Linked DNA regions of Homo sapiens: region 2 is linked to region 1. The links come from fine-mapping of genetic effects on gene expression. Tissue or cell type: whole blood. Region 1 holds a variant in brackets; the other region holds the start of a gene. All regions are shown on one strand. Distances are between the middles of the regions.

Region 1 (7,460 bases):
GGCCAAGCAAATACGTTAAATTTCACCCTCAGAACACATGAAATATCAGGTGGCCACTTTTCGCCTCCTGGGCCAGCAGAGGAGCCTCGTTAAGATGGAAGCCAGGTCCCGCCTCTCTCACTCATCGCTCTCCATGGCTCCTACTTTATTGAGAGTCAAAGCCAAATCCTTGGGCCATGCACGATGGCTCACGCCTGTAATCCCAGCACTTCGGGAGGCCGAGGTGGGCAGATCACTTGAGGTCGGGAATTCAAGACCAGCCGGGCCAATATGGTGAAACCCCATCTCTACCAAAAAGTACAAAAATTAGCCAGATGTGGTGGCCTGCGCCTGTAATCAATCCCAGTTACTCAGGAGGCCGAGGAAGGAGAATTGCTTGAACCCGCGAGGCGGGGATTGCATTGAGCCAAGACTGCGCCACTGCACTGCAGCCTGGGCTACAGAGCAAGACTCTGTCACAAAAAAAAAAAAAAAACCTACAAAAATCTAGCTGGGTGTGGTGGTATGTGCCTGTGGCCCCTGCTACTCTGGAGGCTGAGGCGGGAGGATTGCTTGAGCCTAGGAGGTTGAGGCTGCAGTGAGCCGTGATTGCACCACTGCACTCCAGCCTGGGCCACAGAGTGAGACTCCATCTTGACCAAAAACTAAAACAGAAAACAAAGCCAAATCCTTGGAGTGGTCATCAACACCCCTTCACCCTGCACACCTCTTCCCCACCTCTCTGACTTGTGTCCTCCTCCCTCTTCCTCCCACTCCAGGCACACTCCAGCCTCAGGGCCCTGCAGCAACCGTTCCCTTGGCCTGGATGCCCATCCCAGACACCTCCATGGCTTCTCCCTCACCTCCTTCAGGCCTTTGCTCAGATATTACCTCCTCAGTGATGCCCATCCTGACCACCACCATCTCCAGCATTCTGCATCTCCACTTACCTTCCCTCTCTTCTTCCCTTACCTTCCCTCTCTTTTTCTTATTCCAACATACGATATAATTTACTTATTTTCATGCTAAGCTGCCAACCAAGAATGCAGAGATTGTTGTCTATCTATTGCTCCTCCTCCAGCACCCAGAATGGAGACAGACACGTGGTAGGTATTGAATGAATAACTCGATGGGGCTGTGAGCTGCTTTCCCCTCTCACCCTTACCTGGAGCTGAGAATGGGGCATGGAGAGATGCCCATTTGCTGTTTCCCCACACTGCTGAAGAGGTGGATGGAGGAGAGAGGGTCTTAAGTTGCAGCATCAAGGACTCAAGATAGACTCTGCTTTAACTTAAAAGGCATTGCAGCTTTAACCGTGAGCTCTCCAGGGACAGGCATAGTCCCTTAGGCAGAGGTGTTCCTCAGGACTAGGAGAGACCTAGGCAGCTCCCTGACAAAGCTGCGGTGACAGGCTCTGATCTTGGGAGGTTTCTGGCTGCCTCCCAGGCCTGCATCTGCTGCGCACACTCCCTCCATGTGTCTGTGTGGCCACAGTCCTGGGGGAGGGGGGCCCGAGGAGGGTCCTGCAGCCAGGACTGCAAGCTGAGATCTGGACTTACTTAGTTCCAAATGACTGGGGAATGTCCCTTCCATGACAGCGGTGGCGTGGCCTCCCCTAGTTCCTTGCTCCCAGCAGAGGAGTGGGGCCCAGATGAAAGCAGCCCCTCAAAAGGAGGGGGGGCTGGTGGGCAGACACTGGGCACCCTGTCATCCTGGTCCTCCTCCCTAAGCCTGGTTCCAGGTCATGCCCAAGGAGGAGTTGCGATATGAGATCACTGTCTCATATCTCAGACCAGAGATCTGAGGCCAGAGCATCCTATTTGGTCTCCAGCTTCCTCCAGCCAGGAACTGGAGAGGCTTCACCAGCAAGACCTCTGTGCACAGCAGTGCCCGGACTGGCCAATGAGGAGTGCTCCCTCCAGAGAATCTCCTCTTTACAGCACATGGCTTCAGTGCCTTGGAGGAGGGTTGGGGAAGCAGGGCCAGTACCAGGTGGGTGGGGAGCCAGGCCTGCCCTGGCCAGCCTGGTGCTTGCTCCTGAGCACTCCATCTAGAAAGATGAACCCTTTTGCTCCCTGTGTTGTGGTTGGTAGGTCAGTGAGGCCAAGTCTGTGCTCCTATCCTGGGGTTTCGGTGCCTTCTTGTGCTGTTAGGATTTGATTTTCAAACGTGACTGGGCAGAGTGGGGGCCTTGGCCAATCCTGACTTCTGACCCTTCACCCAGGGATTGGAGGCTTCACCGGTGCTATCTGTGAACTCCCGCGAAGAATTAGGCCTCAGGCTCACCTTGACTGGAACATCATTGTGTACCCATTTAATAGAGGGGAATGCCGAGACCTTGAGGAGTAAGGGCCTGGATGACCTTATTGGGGATTCCAGGCTAGGACCCCCTTGAATGTTGGACTGCAACCTCTGAAAGAATAAAGGACAACGGCTGACTTGAGGGTGATGGGGCATATGCCATAGTCAGATTTCAGGTTTTAAAACATCCCCCTGGCTACTGGGGTGCCAGAGAGGAGGCTGTGAATATCCAGGAGAGAAAGAACAGGGTCTGCCTAGAGCACGGGGGCTGCTGCCGGGTACCTTCAGACTTGGCCAGGTTCCCTCCTCCTTCCCTAGAAGCCCATCCATTGGGCCTGATCTGGAGTTTTGAGGTGGGGAGAGAGGCCTCCTCCCCGGCTTCTATATACCCCAGACACATGGCTCACTGGGTAGGTCTCCCTCCCCCACTCTCCTGAGACAGCAGTTTAAGATTTAATCCCAGGACAAGTTTCTGCAAAGCCCATGTTTGCTGCCAGAAGGAGCAGGGACCAACCTAGATGGAGGGATAAGAGACAGAGGAGGGGTGAGGAAGGGATTGCGGAGGGCTGCATGGGGAGAGGTCATAAATCCAGACTTCACACTCTGTCCTGCCTGGCTCCAGCATCCACAGACTAAATCAGGGAAACCTAGTTCCTGCCACCCAGAGGAATGCATTCATGTGGCCACAACCTGCCTGTGCACCTACTGTGTACCACCCCCTGCCCTACCTTAGTCATGGTCACAGCTCGCAGGGAAGTCTCTGGGCTCAAGCAGCAGCCCTGGCTGGCCCAGCCCTTGACAGGTCCAGGTTACCCAGGACACCAGTAGAGGGCACAGAGGGGCAATGCTGCTACAGAGGGAGACAACCACCCTCCCTCTACCACTGACATTTGGAGTCCTCATAGTCCCTGAGGGGAAACTGAGGCCTGTGCCCCTCTGCCTTGTCTTTTCTTTTTTCTTTCTTTCTTTCTTTTTTTTTTTTTTCTGAGACAGAGTCTCGCTCTGTCATCCATGCTGGAGTGCAATGGCACGATCTCGGCTCACTGCAACCTCCGCCTCCCAGGTTCAAGCGATTCTCCTGCCTCAGCCTCCCGAGTAGCTGGAATTACAGGTGCACGCCACCAAGCCCAGATAATTTTTGTATTTTTAGTAGAGACCAGTTTTCACCATGTTGGTCAGGCTGGTCTTGAACTCCTAAACTCGTGATCCACCTGCTTGGCCTCCCAAAGTGCTGGGATTACAGGCATGAGCCACTGCGCCCAGCCTCTTTTCTTTTGTCTTTGAGACGTAGTCTCGCTCTGTCGCCCAGGCTGGAGTGCAGTGGTGTGATCTCGGCTCACTGCAACCTCTGCCTCCTGGGTTCAAGCGATTCTCCTGCCTCTGCCTCCTGAATAGCTGGGATTACAGGTGTGTGTCACCACGCCCAGATAATTTTTTGTATTTTTAGTAGAGATGGATTTTTGCCATGTTGGCCAGGCTGGTCTAGAACTCCTGACCTCAAGTGATCTGTCACCTCGGCCTCCCAAAGTGCTGGGATTACAGGCATGAGCCACTGCACCGGCCGCCTTGTCTTTTTTTAAAGCACCCCCAGGACCATCTTCCTCCGCGGGTTGCCTAGCCTCTTCCCACCCCACTCCCCTCTGCAGTCCTCAGTGCTCCTCTTCTCTCTGTGCGCCCGGCTCCTGCCCAGGGAAGGGGAGGCATGTGGAAATCTGACTGGCTGGAACCAGGAGGAAATTCACCCCCGCTGTGTTAACCCCCCAGTCTCAGTGCTTGGATTTGAGGGTGGAGCCAGGCCAGGGTTGGTCTGCCACTCCCAGATTCCCCTGAGGGACAGGTCCCACAGATCACCTGCTCAGCCCCAGCTTCCCTCCCTGGACTGCCTGAGGCTTCACCCTTCCCTTGCCCCAGCTGCCCCACCAGCTGAGTGTGCCCAGCGGTCAGTACCCTCTATAGCCAAGGACATATGGACCCCAGACCAAGAGGGGTCATAACCTGCTG[G/C]GGGGGCCAAAGATGGGACCTTAGGCAGCACCCCAAGGCCCTAGGTTGACCATAGCCTCAGGAAACCCACGTTTCCCAGCCAGGGGTCTGGTTGGGCCTAGGCTATGCTATGGGGGCCCAGTTCTCCAGAGAGGGGCCGGGTAGTGCTGGCTGGGGCCTATTCTCTCAACAACATGGGTGTTTCTTGCTGGAGTTTTAGTTGCTCAGAGAGGGGACCCAGTGCTGGGGCCTTGGCCTGCTTAGATCTCTGGCTCGGTGTCCAGGCTGGACCCTTACCACCCTGTGGCTTTCAGGTAGGGAAGAGGAAAACATGTGGGCTGGGCTGAGGTGGGGACACAAGACATGTGAGCCCTGCCACCAGCCAGAGTTTAGAGGAAATTCTGTGTTGAATCCCTGAACATCCCCCTAGCTGCTCCTAGAGTTTTCTCACAATGGGGCTTATTGTGGGGGGAATCTTGGAGCTCCCAGCTGTCTGGACAGGTGTCAGTTCCTGCTCCCTTTGTCACCTACTGATCAAGGACACCCCCCGCCAAGAAAGATGGGACTGCGTGGCTGTGGGTCCTAGACTCTAGAGAACCCAACCCTACCCATGCTGTCCCCACAGGCCCAGGATGAGGCCTCCACATCTTCCCAGGCAGAGACCCTCACCCGGTACAGGCCAGACTGCAGACAAAGATACCACTTGACAGATAGGGAGACAGGGGCCCTGAAAGGTCTGCGTGGAAGGTCGGAGTCAGAACAAGCAAAGCACAGTTGGCCTGCTTTGTGGCCGAGGCAGAGGCAGCAGGGGGATCTCTGGAGGGGCTCCCAGGCAAACCTCAGGGCCTGGAGGCCCTCAGGTCACTCTATGGTTTCTGAAGGGCCACCCCTCATCATGTCTTCTATCATGTTGCCCTCAAGCCTTTGCCTAGGCTATTCTCCCACCAGGAATGCCTTTCCCTGTCTCCCTAGCGGGGTTCTCCTGGTCCTTCTGGCCTGGTTCAAATGCACTGTGTCTTGGTCATATGTCATTCATTCATGCTGGGTGTGGTGGCTCACGCCTGTAATCCCAGCACTTTGGGAGGCTGAGGTGGCAGATCACCTGAGGTCGGGAGTTCGAGACCAGCTTGGCCAACATGGAGAAACCCCGTCTCTATTAAAAATACAAATATTAGCTGGGCGTGGTGGCACATGCCTATAATCCCAGCTACTCGGGAGGCTGAGACAGGAGAATCTCTTGAACCCGGGAGGCGGAAGTTGTGGTGAACTGAGATTGCACCACTGCACTCCAGCCTGGGCAAAAAGAGGGAAACTCCATCTCAAAAAAAAAAAAAAAAAAAAAGATGTCATTCATTCATTCTGCAACCTCATGTCCTCCCAACCCTGTGTTGGCACCAGCCACAGAGACTGATTTCTCCACCCCAATTTGGCCTGAAATTTCAACAAAATTGTCTTGGAATAGTGGTAGGCAAGGCCTACAGGCCTAGAGCTGAGAGATGGGAGCCACCTCAGAAAGGCAGAAGGGGAGATTTTGATGGCCTAGAGTTAGGGGAATTTGAATGCCTAAGGACCCGGGCTCCACCCAGACCCCACACCTTGGAGAGGTCCTGTAAGGGCTGGGAGATAGACTCCAGGCAGAAAAGGGCCTGGCATCTAGGGAAACCTGAGCCTCTCAGAAGTGTGGAGCCTAAGCCGGGCATGGTGGCTCATGTCTGTAATCCCAGCACTTTGGGAGGCCAAGGCAGGTGGATCATGAGGTCAAGAGATTGAGACCATCTTGGCCAACATGGTGAAACTCCATCTCTACTAAAAATACAAAACATTAGCTGGGTGTGGTGGCACATGCCTGTAGTCCCAGCTACTTGGGAGGCTGAGGCAGAGGCAGGAGAATCGCTTGAACCCAGGAGGTGGAGGTTGCAGTGAGACGAGATCACGCCACTGCACTCCATCCTGGTGACAGAGTGAGACTCCGTCTTAAAAAAAAAAAAAGAAGTCCGGGCACGGTGGCTCATGCCTGTAATCCCGGCACTTTGGGAGGCCAAGGCGGGTGGATCATGAGGTCAGGAGATCGAGATCATCCTGGCTTACACGGTGAAACCCTGTCTCTACTAAAAATACAAAAAAATTAGCCGGGCGTGGTGGCGGGCGCCTGTGGTCCCACCTGCTCGGGAGGCTGAGGCAGGAGAATGGCGTGAACCCAGGAGGCGGAGCTTGCAGTGAGCCAAGATGGCGCCACTGCATTCCAGCCTGGGAGACAGAGCGAGACTCCATCTCAAAAAAAGAAAAAGAAAAAGAAGTGTGGAGCCTGGGCAGAGGTGGAAGCCCTGCAGCTCTGGCCTTGCTGTCCACAGGGCTCTTCAGACCTCACCAGGCCTTACTCGACCTACCCAAACATCAGAATCATGAGGCTGGGGCTGGGCGTGGTGGCTCACACCTGTAATCCCAGCACTTTGGGAGGCAGAAGTGGGCAGATCACTTGAGGTCAGGAGTTCAAGACCAGCCTGGCCAACATGGTGAAACCCTGTCTCTAGTAAAAATACAAAAATTAGTTGAGTGTGGTGGTGGGCACCTGTAGTCTCAGTTACTTGGAAGCCTGAGGCAGGAGAATTGCTTGAAGCCGGGAGGCAGAGGTTGCAGTGAGCCGAGATTGCACCACTGCACTCCAGCCTAGGGACAGAGCAAGAATCCTTCTCAAAAATGAAAGAAAGAAGAAAGAGAGAAAGAGAGAAAGAAAGGAAGGAAGGAAGGAAGAAAGGAAAGAAAGAAAGAGAGAGAAAGTAAGGAAGAGAGGGAGGGAGGAAGGAAGGAAGGAAAGAAGGAAGGAGAGAGACAAAGAAAGAAAGAAAGAAAAAGAAAGAGACAGAAAGAGAAAGAGAGAGACCAGACGCAGTGGCTCACGCCTGTAATCCCAGCACTCTGGGTGGCCGAGGCAGGTGGATCACCTGAGGTCAGGAGTTCAAGAGCAGCCTGGCCAACATGGTGAAACCCTGTCTCTACTAAAAATACAAAAATTAGCTGGGCTTGGTGGCGCACGCCTGTAGTCTCAGCTACTCGGGAGGCTGAGGCAGGAGAATTGCTTGAACCTGGGAGGCAGAGGTTGCAGTGAGCCCAGTGCACTCCAGCTTGAGCGAGAGAGTGAGACTCTGTCAAAAAAAAAAAGAAAAAAGAAAGAGGAAGGAAGGAAGGGAGAGAGAGAGACA
Region 2 (6,395 bases), 120 kb before region 1:
GAGACAGGGTTTCACCATGTTGGCCAGGCTAGTCTCAAACTCCTGGCCTCAAGCGATTTGCCTGCCTCCGCCTCCCAAAGTGCTGAGATTACAGGTGTGAGCCACTGTGCCCACCAGCCCATAGCCCTTATTTAATTTTTATTTGATTTAGAGACAGGGTCTGCTCTGTCCTGCAGTGGCAGCATCATGGCTCACTGCAGCCTCCAACTCCTGGGCTCAAGTGATCCTTCCATCTCAGCCTCCTGACTAGCCAGGACTACAGGTGTGTGCATGCCACTGCCCCCAGCTAATTTTATTTTATTTTTTGTCTTGCTTTGTAGCCCAGGCTGGTATGAAACTCCTGTCTTCAAGCAATCTGTCTGCCTCAGCCTCCCAAAGTGCTGGGATTACAGGTGCAAGCCATTGTGCCCAGCCCCCATGACTCTTAGAATAAATGACTCTGGCCCCTGACAGTCCAGGCCCCCTTTTCATTGCTAGCTCTGCAAGTCTATTCCTTTGCTTGTTCTTGCATCCAGGCCTTTGCACTAGTTGCTCCCTCTGCCTGGAATGCTCCCTCTGCCTGGAATGCTCATCCCTAAATTTTGCTGGCTAGCTGTCTTGTGCTTGGGAATTAGCTCATACTCCCCTCAGCACAGCGGCTTCCTTTACCCAACCCCCTCCAGCCACCCAGTCTCCTTTTCCCTTCCTCCCTTGTCTCTCTCTGGCCTCAAGGCCATTGGACTTGATCTTATCATGTATGTGATCTGTGAACTCAAAGAGGTCACGGTCATACCTGTCTTGTCTGTCTCTGTGACGCCAGTGCCTGATTAAGGAGGGTATTTGGTAAGACCTGGCCACACCCACTGCTCACTTACTTTATGGGCCTTGCTTGGCACCTGCCCTGTGGGAGGGTGACGACCTCTACCCACCAACCCCACCAGCCTCTCACCATTGAGCCAGCGGGAGTCGTGTGGCTCTGTTCGGAGACTTGGACGTTGCCCTAGGCTGCGAAAGATGGTAAAGTCTCGTCCCATGAGGTCTGCTGCCACCCCTGAGTATAGCTCCTCCCCTGCAGACAGAGCAAGGGCCACTCAGGCAAATGGAGGGCTCTTGGGGCAGGAGGGCCTGGGGAGCTCTGGGAGTGAGTGAGGTTATGGGGGATTCCCTGGAGCTCTTGGGGGTCTTGGGACTTTGTGAGGTTCTAGAGTTTCTAAGGGGTTCTCTTGGGGCCTTAGCCCTTGGACTCACCCACCAGCACGGAGGCAGCCCGATGCCTGGGGTCATAAGGACTCTTCCCCTTGCCATCCTCTATCCTTCCTGGGTCCAGCCGGAGGACGGGCTCCTGGGAGGTGTGGCAAGTTGTGACTACCAGGCCCTTCTTACCCTCCTGACCTCCCTCCCTGCCTAGATCCGGCCTTACCTCTGCCCGGTGGCCCACTTCCACAAAGGCACAGGTTGGGTGGAAGGCTCCCGTGCCACAGGCCAGCAAATGGGTGCGGTTGTAGGCATGCAGCAACTTCACGAAGTTCATGCACTCAGTCTAGTAGGGTTGGAGGTGTGAGGCTTCCCCCAGGGACGTAGCCTTAAGAGGTCCCAGCTCACCAGTGGCATCCTCACCCCTCCCTCTCTTCGGCATCAGCCCAGGCAAGTACTAACATGGGCTACAGGGACCTGGGGGCCCTTGCTGACCAGCCCAGGCCTCACGAGGGTGGGTGTCTGGGGAAGCACAGGCCTGCAAAGCCTCCCATGACTCAGAGGCACCCCAGAAGAATTACACGAGCCCCCACCCTGACTCACCACCCCCAGACCTCAGCCACCTCGACCTCCCTGCCCTCATCCCAGCCAGAACAGGCAGGCCTCTGTTTTAGCCCTGCCCTGTCTCTGGGGTGAGGGGCTGACCCTCCCCACTCCCGGCCCGGGCAGCTGGCACTCACACCAATGTCCTTCCCTGCCCAGTTGCACTCCTCTCGCCATTCCACAGGGGCCGGCCAGGCCAGCTATCGGGAGGTTGGGGGAGAGGGGACACAGGTCAGGAACTTGGGATATTCTCTACCTCAGGGAGCCATTCCTCTGGGTCTCTCCAGGCTGGAGTGGGGTCCCAGGGCTCCTTCCCTGGGGAGTGCTGGGGTTGGGAGTCCCTGGCACCTTCTTGGCCCGCTTGCTGATGTTGTCCAGGTTGAGGGAGGCCACATGGTTCTCGGCACCCACAAACAGGCGTCCACGCTCCTCATCCACCAGCAAGGCCTGGTAGCAGCAGGTTCGCTCCAGGCTGAAAGTCTGGAGACCATGCCAGGCCTGGAGCTCTGCAGGGCAGGACACTGCTGATGACTCGCCAGCCATGCTGGAAGCCTCCCCCAGGTCCTGCCTGGTGGTGACTCTATCGGCCAAGGTTGCCATTAGGACCTGGCCTGTACACATGTGAGTTTACATGTGTGTGAGTTTACACACGCAAACCCAAGCCCACCCAGGTGCACGTGTGGAGCTGCCAGGGTAGGTGGTACATCCCCCCAGGAAGAGGAAGGCAGGTTGAACTTGGGCATGCTCAGACAGGTGGTGTCTCCAGGCGGGCGCACTGGGAGGCAAGGCTTATGGACACCAGAGTCCTGGGGGAGACTGGCATGCAGGGATGGCCAGAACCCCAACTCCCAAAAGTCAGGCTGAGAGTTCCTTTCCTGCCACTCCACCACCAGCCTGAGCTCAGCAGAACTGCCTATTCACTGCCACTGCCCAGGGGCCACCCTCCTATACAGGAGGCATGAGAAGGGGGCTCTGACTTCCCTGTTGCTCTGCTGAAGGAGTATCGCCTTGTTGGGGGTACTGAACGGAACAGAGACAAGGTCTGTTGCTGTGGGGACAGGAGGGGTCTTCCTGAGAAAGCACGAAGAGAATGTGGGCAGAGGCTGGGGGCTGAGGCCCGGACAGGGTTAACTGGAGGTGGCCTGAGAGTGCCCACTAATCCTACCAGAGTCTGGTGACAGGCACGCACATGGGGCAACAGCCAACACAGAGCCCCCTGGCCATACGGGGACCCTTTCCTGCCCACCTCAAGCTGGGCCCTCCCGCCTGCCAGGTGCACCTACCTTGGAAGGAGAGCCGAAGGCGTGGGGGGCTGGGGGCGGCACTCCCCAGCCCCACTGCCCAGAGCAGGGCCAGGCCCGGGATCACGGCGGCAGCCCCGGCCCGCCCCATCTCAGCAGCTCAGGGTGCTCAGGGTTCAGCGGGTGTGTGTGTGGAGGAGCCTTGAGCTGCCCTGGACTCTGCCCCAGGATCTGGAAGAGGAGTCAGCAGTGAGGGCGAGGGCGGGAGGCTAGGGGGGGAGTCCCCAGGGATCAGATTACAGCCCCTAGGGGAAAGAGGCTGGGGGGTCGCATTCCACTTCCGAACCCTCCCCTCCGAGGGTGCCCCGCCTGGCCACAATCACAGACACACCCACGCCACTGGGCACACCCTCAGGGTCACCCTGCACTGGCAAGCCCGCCTCACCACGTCACCCTTCCCAGTAATCTCCTCTCTTGTATACACACTCACAGACATTAATTCACAATGTGCCACCCACTTCATGCCAGCCTAGACCTGGGAGGAGGGATACTGGGAGACATAGACAAGGTCCCCATGTGAAAGGGGACAGAGTGCCAACAAGGAATCAGATGGATGCAGAGGGTGCCAAGTGCAATGAGCAAAACAAGCCAGTCAAAAGAGTGAGAGTGACAGGAGGGGGTCAGGCCTCTGGAGGTGGCAGTGTCCCCACAGTCCCGCAGAAAAACACAGAGACACTTTTGAGGCTGGAGCCAAGGGTGTGGGTGCCTGTGAATGTGTTTCCGAGTGTCCCCTTGTGATGTGCGCATGTGTGTAGTGTGTATGTGCATGTGTGTGCACATCTATGTGCAAATATATAGTGTGTCATATTGCACATGTGTGGATATGGGTTGGTGTGCACACACATGTGGCACTGTGCAATCCATGCAGTACATATGTGTGATATGTGCATATTTTGCACACAGATGTGTTGCACATTTGTGCATGTGCAAACGTGTGCACCCATAAGAATAGACATGTCTCTGGGCATGCAAGTGAGCAAATCCAACTGCAGCATCAATCACTCCATTCCTCAGAGGGAGAAGTGCTACCCAGGAGACCCAAGACCTGGGCAGAAGCCTCAGCCTCTGACTTGGGGACTGCTCCCAACCCAGCTGAAGCAGCCTCTGCATTTGAGCTTGAGGGCTCTCTCTCCACACCCCTGAGGAATCAAAGAGGGGCAAGGTGAGGCAGCCCTTCATTTGCACCCCAGCCTCCTGGCCTCGCTGAGCTGGCCTTCCCTCTCAACGCCTCCACAGCCTCTCTGAGCCTCTCCCTTCACTTCTCTCACCCCTTGAGTTCTTCCCCATCTTTGAGCCCCTTCACTCTAGGAGCCAGACACCTCCCCCTGGCCCTCAGCTGGGGCAAAGACCTGGCTGCTATGCCCACCCTCCTTCCCAGGGGTCAGCTGGGCAGGTGCTGGACACAGGAGCCCAGGGAGTGGGACAAGGTTCCAGGTGGGATTAAGCAAGTGGAGCAGCTGCTGAGGCAGGTTCCAGGCCCCTCCACCCACACTCCTGCCCAGCTCCTGGCCCCATCCCAGGCCAGGACCCCCACCTCCCTCCTTCCCTCCGCTGACACTTGCCGCTGCCTCTTCTCAGGTTCTAGAGGTCTTCCAGGCCAACACTGGCTGCCTTCTCACACTCCACCGAGGACTTCCGCAGCAGCATCTCTCCACTCTGGCCCCTTCCCACCCTGGGGCCGCTGGGGACCCTCTGACGGCTCCTTTAAGAAGCAGCCCCCGCCCCCACCAGGCCAGCCACCGCCCCACGCACCGCCCGCCGTGCCGTAAAGTTTAGAGGGCGGATCGGGTGACCGGGCAGGCAGCCGGGACCAGCTGGAGACGGCAGCCAGGCGGGAGTGGAATGGGCACAAGGGAGGGGCTGGTAGGGACGACCCCTCCCATATTGGGCCTTAAAGCAGAAGGGTGCCCCAGGTGGCGGTCCCAGAAGCCAGGTGGCCAGCCAAGGCAAGGGAGGAAGAAACCCCAGCTCCAGGGGCTCAGCAGGCAAAGGGAATCACTGAGTGGGGGCACCACCCGTGGACTCCAATATCTCAACCTCTCCCTCCACAGGTGGGGAGCTGTGGGGAAAGATAATGGGGAGCTCAGCTGCCACCTCAGTTCCCAGGGACCGGCTGGGGTGGCCGGGCAGCTGGAGGTCAGGGGAGGGGCTCTCAACTGGAGGTCGGATGGGCCCTCAGGACCCAGTCCCCATCCTTCCTCAACACTTGGGCCACTTAGTACTTCAGTGGCCTGGCCAGCAGTGGCTTCTACCATGACAGCCAGATAGGGGAGGGAGAGGAGGGCAGGAGAGGGGCAGACGCAGGAGGAGCAGCAAATCTCACTTCTGCACCACAGGGCGGGGCCCATCTGGAGTCCGCCATCCTGGACAGGTAGCTTTGCATCTCTGCTGAGAGGTTGGGGGGCAGACCATGTGACCTCCCTTCCTCTGGCTTCTCTTTCTAGGTTGGAGGTGGGAGGAACAACCCCCACCAAACCCAGAGCCGAAAACTGAGGGAGTTTTACAGACAGGACGGAGCTCCTGCACCTCGGAGCCTCAGTTGGGAATGACCTGGGGTCTTGTCCTGAAGCTGAGTCTGGTGAACGTGCCCCATTTGTAACATGAGGGGTACTTCTCTGGAGGGACTGTATGTTGACAGTGGCAGAGTGGAGCCCTGAAGTCCACCTGAGTGAATATACCAGGGCTTGAGAATGGGCTTTGATCCTTCCATCCCCGCAAAAGGCATTTTCCTACCACCTCCCAAGGCTGATGGGGCAGTGTGGGCATTTCAAGTGTTGCAGTTCTGTTGCCCAGCCCTGGATGCCTCCAGCCAAGCAAGGACAGAGGTGGGGGGCACATCTCCAAGTCCCCTGGAAGTGGAAGTGGGGCTATGCCCCTCCTTCCTGAGCCTGAGGACCTGGTATACCTGGCCTGGCCTGGCCAGCTGGCAGGTAAATAACAGGGGCCAGTGGGAGCCGCAGGGCCCTTCAGGAGGGCAAGTGGAAGGACAGATCCCTGCCTGGGCTCGTGGGCTTCCTGGATGTGGCCTTTTCCTACTCCAGGAGTAGCTGCCTCTAGCCTTAGAGGACCTGGGCAGGCTCTCCTGGCTCCATGCAAGCAGACAACATTCTTTGGCTGTTTACAGCTTTCCACCCAAGCAGCCAGGATCAGCAAGTGCCTCAGAGGCTCCCATCCACTCCCACTGTGCCCCCATAGGCCCTCACTGCCTTATGTTTTTCCAGGCCCAGGGGCCCTGTCTCTGTTTCATCACCCCGCACCTTCCTCCACCTGTGTTCACTCTGGGAAACGGTATCAGAAACCCCCCCGCCACCGCCATTA

Evidence for each region. PIP is the estimated chance that this variant, and not a neighbour inherited with it, causes the effect.
Region 2: SEMA3B starts here. The variant in region 1 is fine-mapped to the expression of SEMA3B in whole blood (TOPMed, PIP above 0.99).

Annotation. Positions count from the first base shown.
Region 1 is chr3:50,142,055-50,149,514 of GRCh38, reverse strand. The region is part of intron 1 of SEMA3F-AS1 (SEMA3F antisense RNA 1); the gene reads left to right. Among named protein-coding and RNA genes, the nearest start is that of SEMA3F, 9.5 kb to the left of the region's middle. The variant G/C (reference allele first, on the strand shown) is at 4,282.
Region 2 is chr3:50,266,014-50,272,408 of GRCh38, reverse strand. It overlaps SEMA3B (semaphorin 3B), which reads right to left and starts at 3,262. Exons shown (of 17, transcript NM_001290060.2): 1 at 3,060-3,262; 2 at 2,125-2,282; 3 at 1,914-1,976; 4 at 1,400-1,519; 5 at 1,228-1,321; 6 at 929-1,048. The coding sequence starts at 3,168. It overlaps SEMA3B-AS1 (SEMA3B antisense RNA 1), which reads left to right and starts at 5,038. Exons shown (of 2, transcript NR_110702.1): 1 at 5,038-5,128; 2 at 5,522-5,768.